Linked DNA regions of Homo sapiens. The main gene of each other region encodes a partner of the protein of the gene in region 2 in a complex. Each region holds a gene or a part of one and is shown on either strand. Other genes may lie near its edges.

Region 1 (7,319 bases), on a different chromosome or scaffold from region 2:
AAATACAAGAATTAGCCAGGTGTGGTGGCGGGCGCCTGTAAACCCAGCTACTCAGGAGGCCGAGGCAGGAGAATGGCTTGAACCCGGGAGGCGGAGGCTGCAGTGAGCTGAGATCGCACACTGCACTCCAGCCTAGGTGACACAGCAAGACTCTGTCTCAAAAAAAAAACAAAAGAAAAGAAAGAGAGGGAAGTGCCAAAGAAAATCTCTAGGTTTCTGCCCTGCCAGCTGAATGCACAGTGGAACCATTCGAATCACTAGAAGTATCTGTCCTGGGGTAGGACTGAGGTGGATTTTAAACCTGTGCAGTTTGAGGGGCCTTTGAAGCATCTAAGAAGAAATGTGAAACAGGCAAGAGATATCAAGAAAGGGAGCTCAGGAAAGATCTGGGCTGAAGATAGCCTTAATTTCCTTATATAAAATGTGAGCACTTACATCAACTGAAATGAAGATTAAATGAGCAAATACATGTAATATCCTTTGCATGGCATCTGGTTCATAGTAAATACTCAATAAATGGTAGCTTTCATTATTGATAATGTTATATCGACTCCTGAACAATATATTAGCTAGCCTCCTTGACTAAATGTGGCCAAAAAACATACTGCTATTTCCAGTATCAAATTGAAATCGCTTTTCCTTTTCAAGACCCTGCTCTAGTTTCAGTAATAATACCTGTTACTTTGCACTAATTCCATAAAAATTATTTATGTATACTTGATTTGTGGCACTGTATGACAAAGAAAGAAAGAAAATCCCTGGTTTCAACAAAGCTGAAGTCTACCTAAACAAGACATACGCTTCACAAATACACACCAATGCACCAGAGATGTCACAAAGTAATATAAATGATTAGGTTATATAATTTGAAAGTGGAGCTGGAATTTGAACCCTAATATAAATCCCAAGTCCCTACAAAGAACCACAGTAAATTCTCAATAAATGCTGGATGATATGAAGCAAATATTCCTAATGGCAGTTGTAAGAAAGCCACTTAAAATGCCTCTCATTACAACAGAATGACTACAGTAACCAAAACAGTAGCTCTAGTGATTGTGACATCCAAGAGGTGATAAGACATGTTTATGATAAAGATACCAAGGATGATGAAAAACATTTTCGGATGACAAGTACACTGTGCTTAGTAGGTCCACACTCATTTGGGAGCATTCTAAGTCACAATCAAGACCAGCTGCGGTGGCTCACGCCTGTAATCCCAGCACTTTGGGAGGCCGAGGCGGGTGGATCACCTGAGGTCGGGAGTTCGAGACCAGCCTGACCAACATGGAGAAACCCCCATCTCTACTAAAAATACAAAAAAATTAGGCAGGCGTGGTGGCACATGCCTGTAACCCCAGCTATTCGGGAGGCTGAGGTAGGAGAATCGCTTGAACCTGGGAGGCAGAGGTTGCAATGAGCCGAGATAGTACCATTGCACCCCAGCCTGGGCAATGAGTGAAACTCCATCTCAAAATAAATAAATAAATAAAATAAATCACAATCAATTGTATTCTACAAATAAACAGTACAGCTCATGACTGGTCAATAGCTGTGCCCTACCCAATACAGTGACTACTAGCTACATGTGACTATGCAAGTTAAAATTAAATAAAATTCAAAATTCAGTTCCTCCATCACTCTAGCCACATTTGAAATGTTCCATGGCTACATATGGCTAGTAGCTTGGCTGCCCTACTGGACATCACAAAAGAGAACAGTTCTATCATGGACAAAGTTCCTTGGGGACTTAGTGCTGCTCTCTATCAAATTTAAAACACAAACACTTTTAATACGACTTTTCACCAGCTTGGCAACTTGAATTTTTAACTTTATAACTTACTAAGAACACATGACCTCACAAAGAAAATGGAATCGGTAGTATGTTGAGTCCTCATTTTTAAGTCCATTTGCCTTGTGCATAGATAAGATTCAATAGTAATTGAGCCTTTCACAAATATGTATAAACTGAATAGTGAAAGTGGATTCAGGACTTTTTTTTGTAATTAAATAACATATTTGTCTTTTCATATAATTTATGCAATATTGTAAATTACAAAATTAAGTTCCATTGCCCTTAAACTATGGAATTGGTGCTTTTACTTACTCAACACAAGTGAGCATACATGTCTTAGATGTCAGGGTGAGTAAACATGGTTAGGGGAGGCAATGCCCTAGGGTGGGTGTCAGGCAGGGTACACGTACGCTGTGTTGGTCACATCCATGCATAAAGGTACCTTTATGGCTCTTAAGACACATATAGAATAAAGTCTGCGGGACGGGGTCTACCTGAACACTGAGTATCCGGGCTGGATGATCTCAGGAAAGGTCCACAGCCACCTGTGGTCCCAGGGGAAGGGGCCAACCCTCTGACACGGAAACACTTCCAGGGGTGGACACACCGGTGGGGGGGTGGGGAGGACAGTGAAGATCACAAGTGCCCGTAGAGGCAGGAGCTGTGACAGGACAAGATCAGAGGCTGGGGCAAGAAGAAGGGGCCGTGGACCACCCCGTGCCCAGCCCGAGCCCTCCCCCGGCCCCGGGACAGGCGAGTTACATAACCCCGGCGGGCGTCTCTCGGCGCCGGGCGAGTGGTGCAGGCGGCGAGGACAGCCCCCGCGCCCAGGGGCCGCTCTTCCCTCCACCTCGGCTGGGGGCCGGAGTGGCGCCAGGGGAGCAGCCACCGCCTCCGCCTGGCACAGGCTGGACTCCCGGGCTCTCGGTTTCCGGCCCTGGCGCTCACACAACCCCAGAAACCAACACACAGACACCATAACAAAGGCGGCGACGCGGCGGCAACACCGGAGTGGGAGGACTAGGGGACCACAGTGGGGCTGGCAGTCAGCCCACCTGCCCAGCGGAGGGCACGGCCGTCCGTCCCGGCCGGTGCAACCGCTGGGCAAGCAGCAGGCGGGAAAAGGGGGGGGTGCTTTGAGGTGCTACTCACTCTCGTCAGGCAACTGGTCGAGCTCCGCCATCTTGAACGAGCCGCGCCGCTTTTTCAAAGGCTGCCCGCCGCGGTGCATTGTGGGGCGGAGACTGTCTTTGCGAGGGAGGTTCGAATGCGGAGCTCGCTGCCCGCGGCGCCGCGCTGCGCTGCTCCCGCCGCGGCTGGCTGAGGCGGGCCCGGCTCCGCCCGCGCCTGCCCGGGGAGGAGGTGCCGCCGAAGGGGGGCCGCGCCTCGCCCCTCCGCCGCCGCCTCCGGCCGAGCCGGGCGGGAGGAAGGGAGGAAGGAGGCCGCACGGCGAGGCCCGGCGCCGGAGCGCGGGGGGAGCAGTACCAGCTCCGGAGTCCCGCCCGGGCCCCGCTCCCGGCGCATGTTCCGCGGCCCGCGCTGCAGCTGCGGGAACTGCAGGCTGTTTGTTCCGAGTGGAGAACGGGAGGGAGGCCCCGGCGGGGGGAAAGAAGCCCTCGGTTCTGGGTCGCATTGCCCGAGGGGGCTCTACGCAAAGTGAAATACTCACAGTTCCCGAAACCCACGTTGCTTGGGCGCCTCCGTCCCCTCACTTTTCCCGAGACCGCCGGCCGCAGCAGCCCCCTGCGCGTCGCGACGTCCGGGACTCGGTCCCAGCGGCCCCTCGCGATCCGGGCACGCCTTTCCCGAATGTTGGAAGCTGAGCTGCGTGCAGCCGGGGAGCGAGACCTTGAGAGGTCATGAAGTTGGTCATTTAGGCCGACAGCTAAAGAACTGTTCTGCTCAGCTGTTTCATCCATTCGACACTAGATCGTGCAGTGGGCTGGAAGAGAATTAGAAAACGAGTAACAGGAGGCTTCGAGAGGATACAGAAAGGAACAGTGACACTACAAGGTGATAAAGTACCTGATCCAAATGTTATGAGAATACTGGACGAGAATTGAACGAAATTGAAAGAAGCCCAAGGAAAAATTTCACAATATCTGTCTGTAACACTTTCCAGTAATAAAACACTGTTGCTTTTCAAAAATTCATTTAACGAATGTCATTGAGCTCCAATCCTTTTCTCCAGGAATTTATGGGGGTTGGAGGAATGAGACCGTTAAGCAGTCAAAAGACAACGTGGGTGAATTCCAGGAACTACAAAGTTAAAAGGCGGTAGACTAAGGTGACAGAGTGGTACACAGAGGCCCGCCCAGGCTAAGGAGTTGAACTTGCTTAGTCCACTGGAGCAGTGGAAAAGTCGGGTGTAAGAGGGGCACGTTTCTATTTGTGTTTTAGAACAAAAATATGGGAAATGGATTGGTGGGGGACAAGATGAGAGCCTAGAAACCAGTCAGGAAGAAGCTTATTTGGGGCATGCAAAGGACAGAAGAGAGATGCCTGCACTGGTAGCTAGAGAGGTGCAGCGGGTGGGCTCTGGAGCCCCAGGGCCTCGATGGGAAGAATCCAGATGGGCTGCTAGTTGTATAATCTCAGGCACGTTGGTTTCTTAACCGAATTCTCTGTGCCTCAGTTTCTTATCTGTAAAATGCAAATAACAGGGTTATTTTGAGGGCTAAACGATTTGATAGATGTAAGGACCTTATACTAGCTGCTAGCACCCATCAGCTAGCCACTATTACCACCATTACCACAGCATAGGCAGTATTAGAGAGAGGTGGCAGCATGCACTCCACCTTTCAAGACGTGGAAAATAAAGGATTGGGTGAGTCACTGGGTGTGAGGAGAAGGAAGTCTCATTGCTGATGCCAGCTCTGTGCCTTGGGTAACTGGGTGCTGCCATGCTAAGGTAGGAGGGAGAGCAGGGAGTGAGCAGGGAGGGTGAAAGTTCAATTTTACAAAGTAATCCTTCCTTCAGAGCTAGCTTAACCTCTCCTTTGCCTTCTAAACACACTCTGATCTGCTCCCTAAGAAGATTAAAACACTGGTCCTTGTTGTCAGCACCTAGGGGGTGCTTCAGCAGCTTGCACTTCAGTATCAATTTGGAGATGAGATCAAGAAAAGGTCAGCCCTTTAAGAATGGAAGAATAGAAATTAAAAAAACATGAGAGGTTACCAGAGTGGGAGAAGCAAAAGCTTTGTGAATGTCATGATAGTCAAGGTGTCATTAGACCAAGGCAAACCTGGTTTTATTCTGAGGCAGTTTTCATGTACACGCAACAACACAACTACTGTTTAAATCAATGTTTTTAGGCCCTTGCCTGATAATCTGCATTTTAAACAAAAACTTTGACTCTTCTCATAAATCCAAAGCCTGAAGCTGTATCCTAGCCCCAGATCTAGCGCTTAGCTGTGTGATCGAAGCCAAGGCACACCTAACTCTTCAATAAGTTTCGTTATTGAATATTTATGACAGGTTTTACAATGATTGGCTTACTTGATTCTCCCAACAACCTGGTAATTTGTCCAAAGACAATGGCAAGCAAGTGCTAGAATCAGGAATCTAGCCCACTTTTCGGTGCCTCAGTGACTCCCTCTGTGATGGGAGGATTACACGTATGTCTTTGTCCATTTGTGCTGCTATAACAAAACATCTGAGACTGGGTAATTTATAGACAACAAGAATTTTTTTTTTTTTTTTTGAGATGGAGTTTTGCTCTTGTCACCCACGCTGGAGTACAATGGTGTGATCTCGGCTCACTGCAACCTCTGCCTCCTGGGTTCAAGCGATTCTCCTGCCTCTGCCTCCAGAGTAGCTGGGATTACAGGTGCCTGCCACCACTCCTGGCTAATTTTTGTGTTCTTAGTAGAGACAGGGTTTCACCAGTTTGGCCAGGCTGGTCTTGAACTCCTGATCTCAAGTGATCTACCTGCCTCAGCCTCCCAAAGTGCTGGGATTACAGGCATGAGCCACCGTGCCCAGCCGACAACAAGAATTTATTTCTCACAGTTTCAAACGCTGGGAAGTCCAAGATCAAGGTGCCAATGTTGGTGTCTGGTGAGGGCAGCTCTCTGTTTCCAAGATGGTGGCTCGTTGCTCCATCCTCTGGAGGGGATGCATGCTGTGTCCTCACATGGTAGAAGGGACAGAAAGGCAAGAGAACACCTCCTTCAGTCTTGAGCCCTTTCATAAGGGTGCTAACCCCATTCACGAGAGCAGAACCCTCATGACTTAATCACCTCCCAGAGGCCACACCACTTAATACTGTTGCATTGGGGATTATGTTACAACTGAATTTTGGAGGGAATACCATCATTCAAACCATAGCAACATGCAACACAGGGGTATTAAGTTTCCTGCAATCACTTATTCCAATTTAAAATGACATGACTGTGTGTGGTGTTTGCTTTTTAAAAAAAACAAACCACGGTGTGGATAAGGTCATTAAGTCATGAAAAACCTAAATAAAAATACACCATAAGAAACATCTCATGTACCATCATAAATATATCCACCTACTATGTACCCACAAAAATTCTAAAAAATTTTAAAAATACCATAAGAAAAATAAACATGGCCACGTTTTAGAAATACCAGGTTTGACCATTTCTAGTCCTGTGGCCTATTTATCAATTATTGGGTTGGATTATTTTTGTGAAAACAGTTGCAATGACTAAAGATAAAATGTGTGTGTTGGGGGCCTGGTGCAGTGGCTCACACCTGTAATCCCAGCACTTTGGGAGGCTGAGGCAGGTGGATCGCCTGAGCACCTGAGATCAGGGGTTTGAGACCAGCCTGACCAACATGGTGAAACCCAGTCTCTACTAAAAATACAAAACTAGCCAGGCGTGGTGGCTTGTGCCTGTAATTCAAGCTACTTGGAAGGCTGAGGCAGGAGAATTGCTTGAACCTAGGAGGTGAAGACTGCAGTGAGCTGAGATCACACCACTGCACTCCAGCCTGGGTGACAGGGTGAGACTCCGTCTCAAAAAAAAAAAAAAAAAAAAAAAAAGCGTGTGTGTGTATAGTATGTGTGTGAATGTTTTTATAAATACTTTTGATAAAGTTGGGAATTTGAGTTAGTAATGAAAAAACAAAGACAATTCAGTTTGCCTTGCTTGAGTATCTCAGCCATAATGAGGTAAAAAGGCTCTCCAGCCTATAAATATATATATTTTTAAGTTATGTTGCTGGTAGGACTCCACACTCAGCATTTCCTCTTCCAGCATCCAAGTACACCAGGAGTACTGATGGCCCCAGGATCTAGGTTCAAATTGCAGTTCACCTACTTCCCTTGTGTGTATTCTTGAACAAATTACTCTCAGTAGTAGTTTTTAGTTTTCTTCTCCCTTTCTTGAAGGGTTATCATGAAGATTAAATTACATATTGTAAATTAAGTGCCTACCAAGATCTCCAGTGACTGTTGGTATCCTTCCTTGATGAGAATCCCTCTTTTACAACATAAATATTCTCAAAAATGTGCCCAGTGGCCATCCTGGTAATTCCCTTCAGAATCATCTCCCT
Region 2 (7,021 bases):
CCTCACCTGAACCCACTCCCCCACCCCCAGCTCATGCAGCTTGACACTCAGCCAGGCACTGCCTGGCCTGGCTGGCTCATCCCGACCGCCTCGCCTCCACCCAAAAGATTCCTTTGGAACCTCCCTTTCTGCGGCCCTTGGTACCCTGTGAATTCAGTCATGGTGTGTCTGTCTAGCATCTGTCTCTGCCCCCTGAACACTAAGGGGAGATCCAGTCTGGGTCGTAATTGCTGCTCCATCCACCACATCCAGCCCAGCCCAACTTGAGCAGGGTCCGAACACAATGCTGGATAAGTAAGTGAATCCTTCAAAGCAGAGCAGAGGAGGGTCCCAGAGACACTGTCCTTATCTTGTCAGTTTCCTCAACAACCACCGTGCGAAAGGGGGCAAAGGGGATATGCTACGCCCCCATTCTCCCCAGCGCCTCACTTTCTACAACCTGTCCCCAGACGCCTCCCCCATGCCACGGCTCCAATTCCCCCTGCCCAGGCTCTCCCACCCCTACCCTACTCACCCCAGGCTTCCTCTTCTGCTTCTCGGGCCTGATGTCGTCCTCGATGATGAGTTCGATGCCAGCCTCAGAACGCAGCACCTCCTTCAAGTCCTCCTCCAGGTGCGGGGTCTGTGGCTGTGGGTAGGCACGGGGCAGCCCACGTGAGGCACCACACTCGGGCTGTGTGTGTGTGGGACTGTGGGACCAACCCAGCTGCAACTGGGCTGTCCTGGGTAAGGCAGGAAGGAGGCCTGACGCCAGGATGCAGATCTCACACGCACCATTCACAACCACTAACTGCTGCCTTGGACAAGCAGCTGATGACCTTGATTCCCAGGGGCCTGCCATGGCTGGGAGCAGCCCAGAGACGCACTGTAACCCTCACACAGCCCTGTGCAGTAACCGTCATTTTAAGCAGGTAGAAACAGAAGCTCAGAGATCAACAGCCTGGCACACAGTCACACAGCTGCTGAATTAGGACCCCGACAGCTCAAAGCCCAGGCTCACTCAACCCTTTGTTCCACACTAATGGGGGCTCTCAAACCCATTTCCCTTTCTCAGGCCTCGGGGTTCCAAGGACCTCTCCAGCTTCAGGCAACAGAGAACAGGGGAGGGCGAGTGCTACTAAGAGTGAAAGGTGCGAATCACAGCCACTCCTCATAAGTCATCCGAAAAGCCCCCACAAACTTTAATTACAGCTGCCAAGGTCATGTGATTTGCCCTCACACCTGTTTGGAGAGCATGCAGATATTTTAGTACAGAGGAGCCAAATCTCCACTGCAACAGGAAAGGAGCACTAACTAGTGCCTCACCTCGGCTCATGTAGCATGGTCCGTGGAAAGTCTGCTTGACTCAGAATCAGTTCCATGGCAGGCCCAAGGGAGCCTCAGCCCCCAGCCACCTTGGGCTTCATAGGAGGCTCCATGCAGTGGAGAGAGACAGCAGGGGGACCCGCTGCAGACCTTGTTCACAGTCCAGTGCCTCCACAACCATGCCTTTCTCTCACCCTCCACTGATTTCTAAAACACCTGTGTGTTTCAGAAAGCCCAAGGTGCCAACTCCTTTTTTCATAGAGAAAACACAACCATCCCATCAACTGGGAAGAGCAGGGGAGAAGGGCAGCCTGCACACTGCAGGAAAGACGTCCCCGAGGGGCTTTCCCGTGCTCTGTAGAGAACTGGGAGTTGGTCAGAGACAGGCCAGAGTAGCAATTTGCCACTTCTCTGAACTAGGCCCAGTGCTTATCTTTGCCTGAAAGTGTTTAAGTTATTTGTATTTCACATCAGTCTCCCCCATCCTGAGGCTGAGTGTCACGGGATACCACCATGTCTCTAGCACCAGCCGGCGCGTGCTTGCAAACTCAGGTGCTCAGGAGCAGTCGGAGGAAGTGACAAAGAGCAGCCTCAGCTTCCCCATTTATATTATCAGGATCTCTGCATCTTCTCAGGAGAAAGAATCAAATGAGACCTCAGAGGGAAGGGTCCTGTGGACTGAACATGGTTGGATGAACCGAAGGGATCCCACTGTGCAGAGATCCACGGCAGCGACCACACCACGTACCAGGGGCTTCAGGGGTCCGTACTTCTCCAGGGCGTTCTTGAACGGGGTTGGCGTGTGGGGAGTGTTGTCCATGGAGTACTTCTGATCTGGGGTTACAAACCTGCCAGGGGCCAGAACGGGGGAACTAGTGACAGGATAGGGGCCGACGCCAGGCACTCTGCTGCCCTGGCTCCACCTTCCCCCAGTGCGACCTTTGGCCCCAGCACAGGTTCTCGTCCCATCCCTCTCCCCACCCTGCAGGTCCAAGTCAGGGGCTCGGGGGAAACAGAAGGGAGAGGGGAGTCTAAGAGGGGCCAGGAGCCCCAGACAGGTGGCAGATAGCCGAGAATGCTGCTCAGTCATGGTCCAGACTTGGGACTTTCCAGAAAACAAGGCAGTCCGTGGCCACACTTCAGGAACAGTGAGAGGGGGCACGGAGCAAGGTGGGAACCCAGGAAGATCCCATCCTGCCCAGCTCTCCCTGGAGAGCCTGTGTGAGAAGGATGGTGGCAGCACAATGAGGGAAAGGAGGGGCGAGAGGTGAGGCCAGCATCTTCCCAGGTCTCCCAAGAGTTCACCGAGGTGATGGACACGTGGAGGGAACCCTTCAGCAGAACAGAGAAAAACCCAGGATGGTCTGGTCCAGAAGCAGAACTATAAGATGCTTCTATCAGATGTAGACCCACCATGGGTGATTTCCACCTGCCCTAGAGCAGGGGGGCAGAAAAGGCACCTCACGCCCCAGAGCGCCAGGGCTGGTGGTATGGGGCTGGGCCAGGCTGGCTGTGGGCAAATGTCAGCTCTGAAGGAAGCTACCAGGTTCCACAAACACGAACCCTTGTGTGCTGGTATGTGACCTTAGTCACCTGGAGATACCACCATGGCTGACTCTCATGGCATAACCAGGGCACTCAGAGGATGAGAGAAACACCCCAGGTAGCCAGGGACCTGGGTGATGAGGCCAACTCCTAGAAACAGCAGCCTGGGGCCTCGCCGCCTCCACTTCCCGCAGCTGGCCAGCCACTCCATGGGGAGATAAAAAACTAGAACAAATGCAGACCATTCTTTTCTTCCTTCCTCAGGACCTAGAGATTAGGCAGGGATCCACAGTCTCTTCCCAAACCCTTGTTATCCCCCATCTGGGACACACAGAGATCCCCCTCTGTAAGGAAGAGTGAAGACAGATAAGCACAAGTCAAATGTACACATCTTACAGTTCAAACCACAATTCACAGAGGTGAATCTGAGCCACTCAAGCATCTCCATGGGACATGGAGTTTCTGAGGAACATGAGAAAATTCCAGAACCTCTCTAATTCGTGGCATCAACAAGGACTAAGAGCACACACATGGCCAAAGGCAGTGGTTCACGCCTGTAATCCTAACACTCTGGGATTAGTGTTAGGCTGACAGGAGAGGATCACTTGAGGCCAGGAGTTAAAGAACAGTCTGGGTAACACAGACTCCATCACTACTAAAAATAAAAAAATCAGCCAGCCATGGTGGTGCTTGTAGTCCCAACTACTCCAGAGGCTATGGTAGGAGGACCACTTGAGCCCAGAATTCAAGGCTGCAGTGAGCCATGATTGCACCACTGCACTCCAACCCGGGTGACTAAGAGAGACCTTGTCTCGGAAAAAAGAAAAAAAAGAGTGTATATACACACATTAGAAAACTCAGGGAGAGGCCGGGCCTTGTGGCTCACCCCTGTAATGCCAGCACTTTAGGAGGCTGAGGCGGAAGGATTGCTTGAGTCCCAGAGTTCAAGACTAGCCTGGGCAACACAGTGAGACCCTGTCTCTCAAAAAAACAAAAAAATTAGCCAAGCATGGTGGTGCACACCTGTGTTCTCAGCTAGTTAGAAGGCTGAGGTGGGAGGATCACTTGATCCTGGGAGGTAGAAGTTGCAGTGGGCCATGATCACACCACTGTATTCAACCTTGGGGACAGAGCAAGACTGTCTCAAAAAGAAAACTCAGGGAGGCAGGGAGGCTGACTTGAAAAGGGAATTCAAAAGATTGCTTGGAGATAAAAAATGCAGCTCTGTAAATCAGAGAATTCAGCAAGTTGGAAACCACAGACAACCAAACTGGTGAATCAGAAAACAATCCCATCATGTTCTCCGAAGATTAAGGAAATGGCTTAAGATGGTGAAGAGGCGTATGAAGACGAAAAAGACACAGAGACCAATCCAGCCTATATATGAAGGAATTCCTAAGGTAGGAGAAGGGGCAGACAGGGAAAGAAAAACTAAAGAAATAAACACTTCCTCAGCTCAAGGTTTGAATCTTTAGTCTGATATGAAAGCCGGGGGGGAAAAAAATAGAGAAATACCACACCACCATACAGCCTGTCAAATTTGAGGGATAACTAAAGAGACTCTCTACAAAGGAATAACAGCTGGATTACAGCTCACGCCTGTAATCCCAGCACTTTGGGAGGCCGAGGCAGGCCATTTGAGTCAGGAGTTCGAGACCAGCCTGGCCAATATGGCGAAACCCCATCTCTACAAAAAAATAGAAAAATTAGCAAAAAAATATAAAAATTAGAACTCATCACCAGCAAGCCCACACTACATGGTTAAAGGATGGCCTTCAGAAGGAACCAGATGGAAATATGGATCTAAAGAGGAATGAAGAGCACTGGAGATGCTTCTTCCTATGGAAAAAAGGAATTGGAAGGAGGCAGCAAATGAGGCCACATGGATAAGAAAGAAAGGGAGAGAGAGAAGTATCAATGCCTTTTGTAGTGACAGCATCTCTGTTTAAGGGCTTAGATGCGAAGTCCAAGATTCTGGTTTGAACGGACAATCATTTCTCACGAAACCTATCTAAGTTATGCTTTAGATCAACTCTTTAGAGACTGATTTCTTTTTTCTCTTTTTTTTTTAAAAAAAAAAAAAACTAGAAAGAGAGTCACGCTTTGTCACCTAGGCTGGAGTGCAGTAGCCAATCATAGCTCACTGCAGCTTCAAACTCCTGGGCTCAAGCAATCCTCCCACTTCAGCCTCCCGAGTAGCTGGGACTACAGGCACACACGGCCACGCCCAGCTAATTAAAAAAATTTTTTTTGGCTGGGAGCAGTGGCTCACACATATAATCCCAGCACTTTGGGAAGCCGAGGCGAGTGGATCACAAGGTCAGGAGTTTGAGACCAGCCTGACCAACACGGTGAAACCTCGTTTCTACTAAAAATACAAAAATTAGCTGGGTGTGGTGGCGCGTGCCTGTAATCCCAGCTACTCAGGAGGCTGAGGCAGGAGAACTGCTTGAACCCGGGAGGCGGAGGTTGCAGTGAGCCGAGATTGCACCACTGCACTCCAGCCTGGGTGATAAAGCAAGACTCCATCTCAAAAAAAAAAAAAACTTTTTTTTTTTTTGTGTACAGACAGGGTCTCCCTATATTGCCCAGACTGGTCTTAAACCCCTAGTCTCAAGTGATCCTCCCACCTTGGCCTCCCAAGCGCTGGGATTACAAGTGTGAGCCACTGAGCCGGACTTTGGAGACTGATTTCTGACTAAGGGATTCACAAATCTTTTCCCGAAATTATGTATCACTATCAGGGCTAAAATTCCTGAGCTGATTTCTGAATCACAAAATAGCGATTTCCTCCTCCAGCAAATGTATCAAGCAGAGGAATAGTTAAGCAACTCTCTCTACCTGGAATTTAGAATCATGATGACCCAAGGAAGTAAACTTATTGTAAAAGCACTTCCATTGTAAAAGCAGGCTGGCGAGCAACCTGTACAGGCTTCCAGACAGAAAATGTCATGCTCCGTAAGCTCAGAGGACAGGAATGCAGTCTCCACTCTTGATAGAGGGATGGGCACTTTCGCCCTGCACATAAGGCTGCTCAAACACAACGAATTTGCACCTGAAACCTTAGGAAGCGGAAGAGATTATGTTTTTCAGGCTAATTTGGACTCTCCATTCCTGAGACAGAAAATTATCAAATGAGGGCCAGGTGCAGTAGCTCACGCCTGTAATCCCAGCGTTTTGGGAGGCTGTGGCAGGAAGATCACTTTAAGGCCAGTTCAAGACCAGCCCAGATAAAGTAGCAAGACCTCACCTCTTAAAAAAATTTTAGCCGGGTGTGGTGGCTCACGCCTGTAATCCCAGCATTTTGGGAGGCTGAGGCAGGAGGATCACGAGGTCAGGAGATCGACACCATCCTGGCTAATACGGTGAAATCCTGTCTCTACTAAAAATACAAAAAATTAGCTGAGCGCGGTGGCGGATGCCTGTAGTCCTAGCTACTCGGGAGGCTGAGGCAGGAGAATGGCATGAACCTGGGAGGCGGAGCTTGCAGTGAGCCAAGATCGCGCCATTGCACTCCAGCCTGGGCAACAGAGCAAGACTCCATCTCAAAATAAATAAATAAATAAATAAATAAATAAATAAATAAATAAATATTTTTTTAATTAGCTGAGCATGGTGGCATGCACCTGGAGTCCCAGCTACTCAGGAGGCTGAGGCAGGAGGATCACAAAAAAGGAAACTATCAAATTAAAAAATACAAATGAGGAAAAGCAAAGGTGGAGCCCAAAACTATATCGATAAAAATGATAAATCGTGGTGGCCAGAAAGGAGAGGGCTTTCTTAAAACAGTCTTCAGTGTTATTCCAAGGGTGCCCCCTCCCCACTGTTCCACCAGTGGTCCCAAGGCCCATGGTCTGGTGTTGCTGAGGGAGAGGACGGCGAAGGTTGGGGGCACTGCAGCACTCACGCAGCATGTTTCTGGTGCAGGGGTGTCTTGTCCCGGTGCAGTGGTGTGGTGACCACCACCTTCTGGCTGCACACTGGGGTGGATGTCAGCGAGGGGCTCTCCAGCTCCAATGTGTCCTGTTTGTTCCAGAAGTTCAGAAACTGCCAAAGAAGAGAGAGGGAACAAGACAAAATGATGACCTGCATGAGTATCCCTGAGACCTCAGGGGATCATGGGGAGAGATCCTTGAGCCTCTCCCCCAAAACGTCTGCTCTGATACTGAGG

The links. Proteins that work in one complex are often made in the same cells at the same time.
Region 1: the proteins of MYBL2 (region 2) and LIN9 are in contact, whole or in part, in a crystal structure (PDB 6C48), measured with the Homo sapiens proteins. Residues at the interface, in NP_002457.1 of Homo sapiens: Trp663, Ala667, Cys668, Gly669, Gln674, Met677, Gln678, Ala681, Arg682, Leu684, Leu685, Arg687; in NP_001353174.1 of Homo sapiens: Lys356, Gln385, Arg386, Tyr388, Ala389, Thr390, Val392, Leu393, Leu395, Glu396, Asn399, Leu402, Asn403, Leu406.

Annotation. Positions count from the first base shown.
Region 1 is NC_000001.11:226,306,165-226,313,483, forward strand, and holds the start of LIN9 (protein lin-9 homolog), read right to left. Parts: upstream 2,976-7,319; coding exon 2,945-2,975; exon of another isoform or gene 2,287-2,944; intron 1-2,286. UniProt on the Homo sapiens protein: Acts as a tumor suppressor. Inhibits DNA synthesis. Its ability to inhibit oncogenic transformation is mediated through its association with RB1. Plays a role in the expression of genes required for the G1/S transition.
Region 2 is NC_000020.11:43,705,095-43,712,115, reverse strand, and holds part of MYBL2 (myb-related protein B), read right to left. Parts: intron 6,898-7,021; coding exon 6,758-6,897; intron 2,154-6,757; coding exon 2,054-2,153; intron 629-2,053; coding exon 515-628; intron 1-514. UniProt on the Homo sapiens protein: Transcription factor involved in the regulation of cell survival, proliferation, and differentiation. Transactivates the expression of the CLU gene.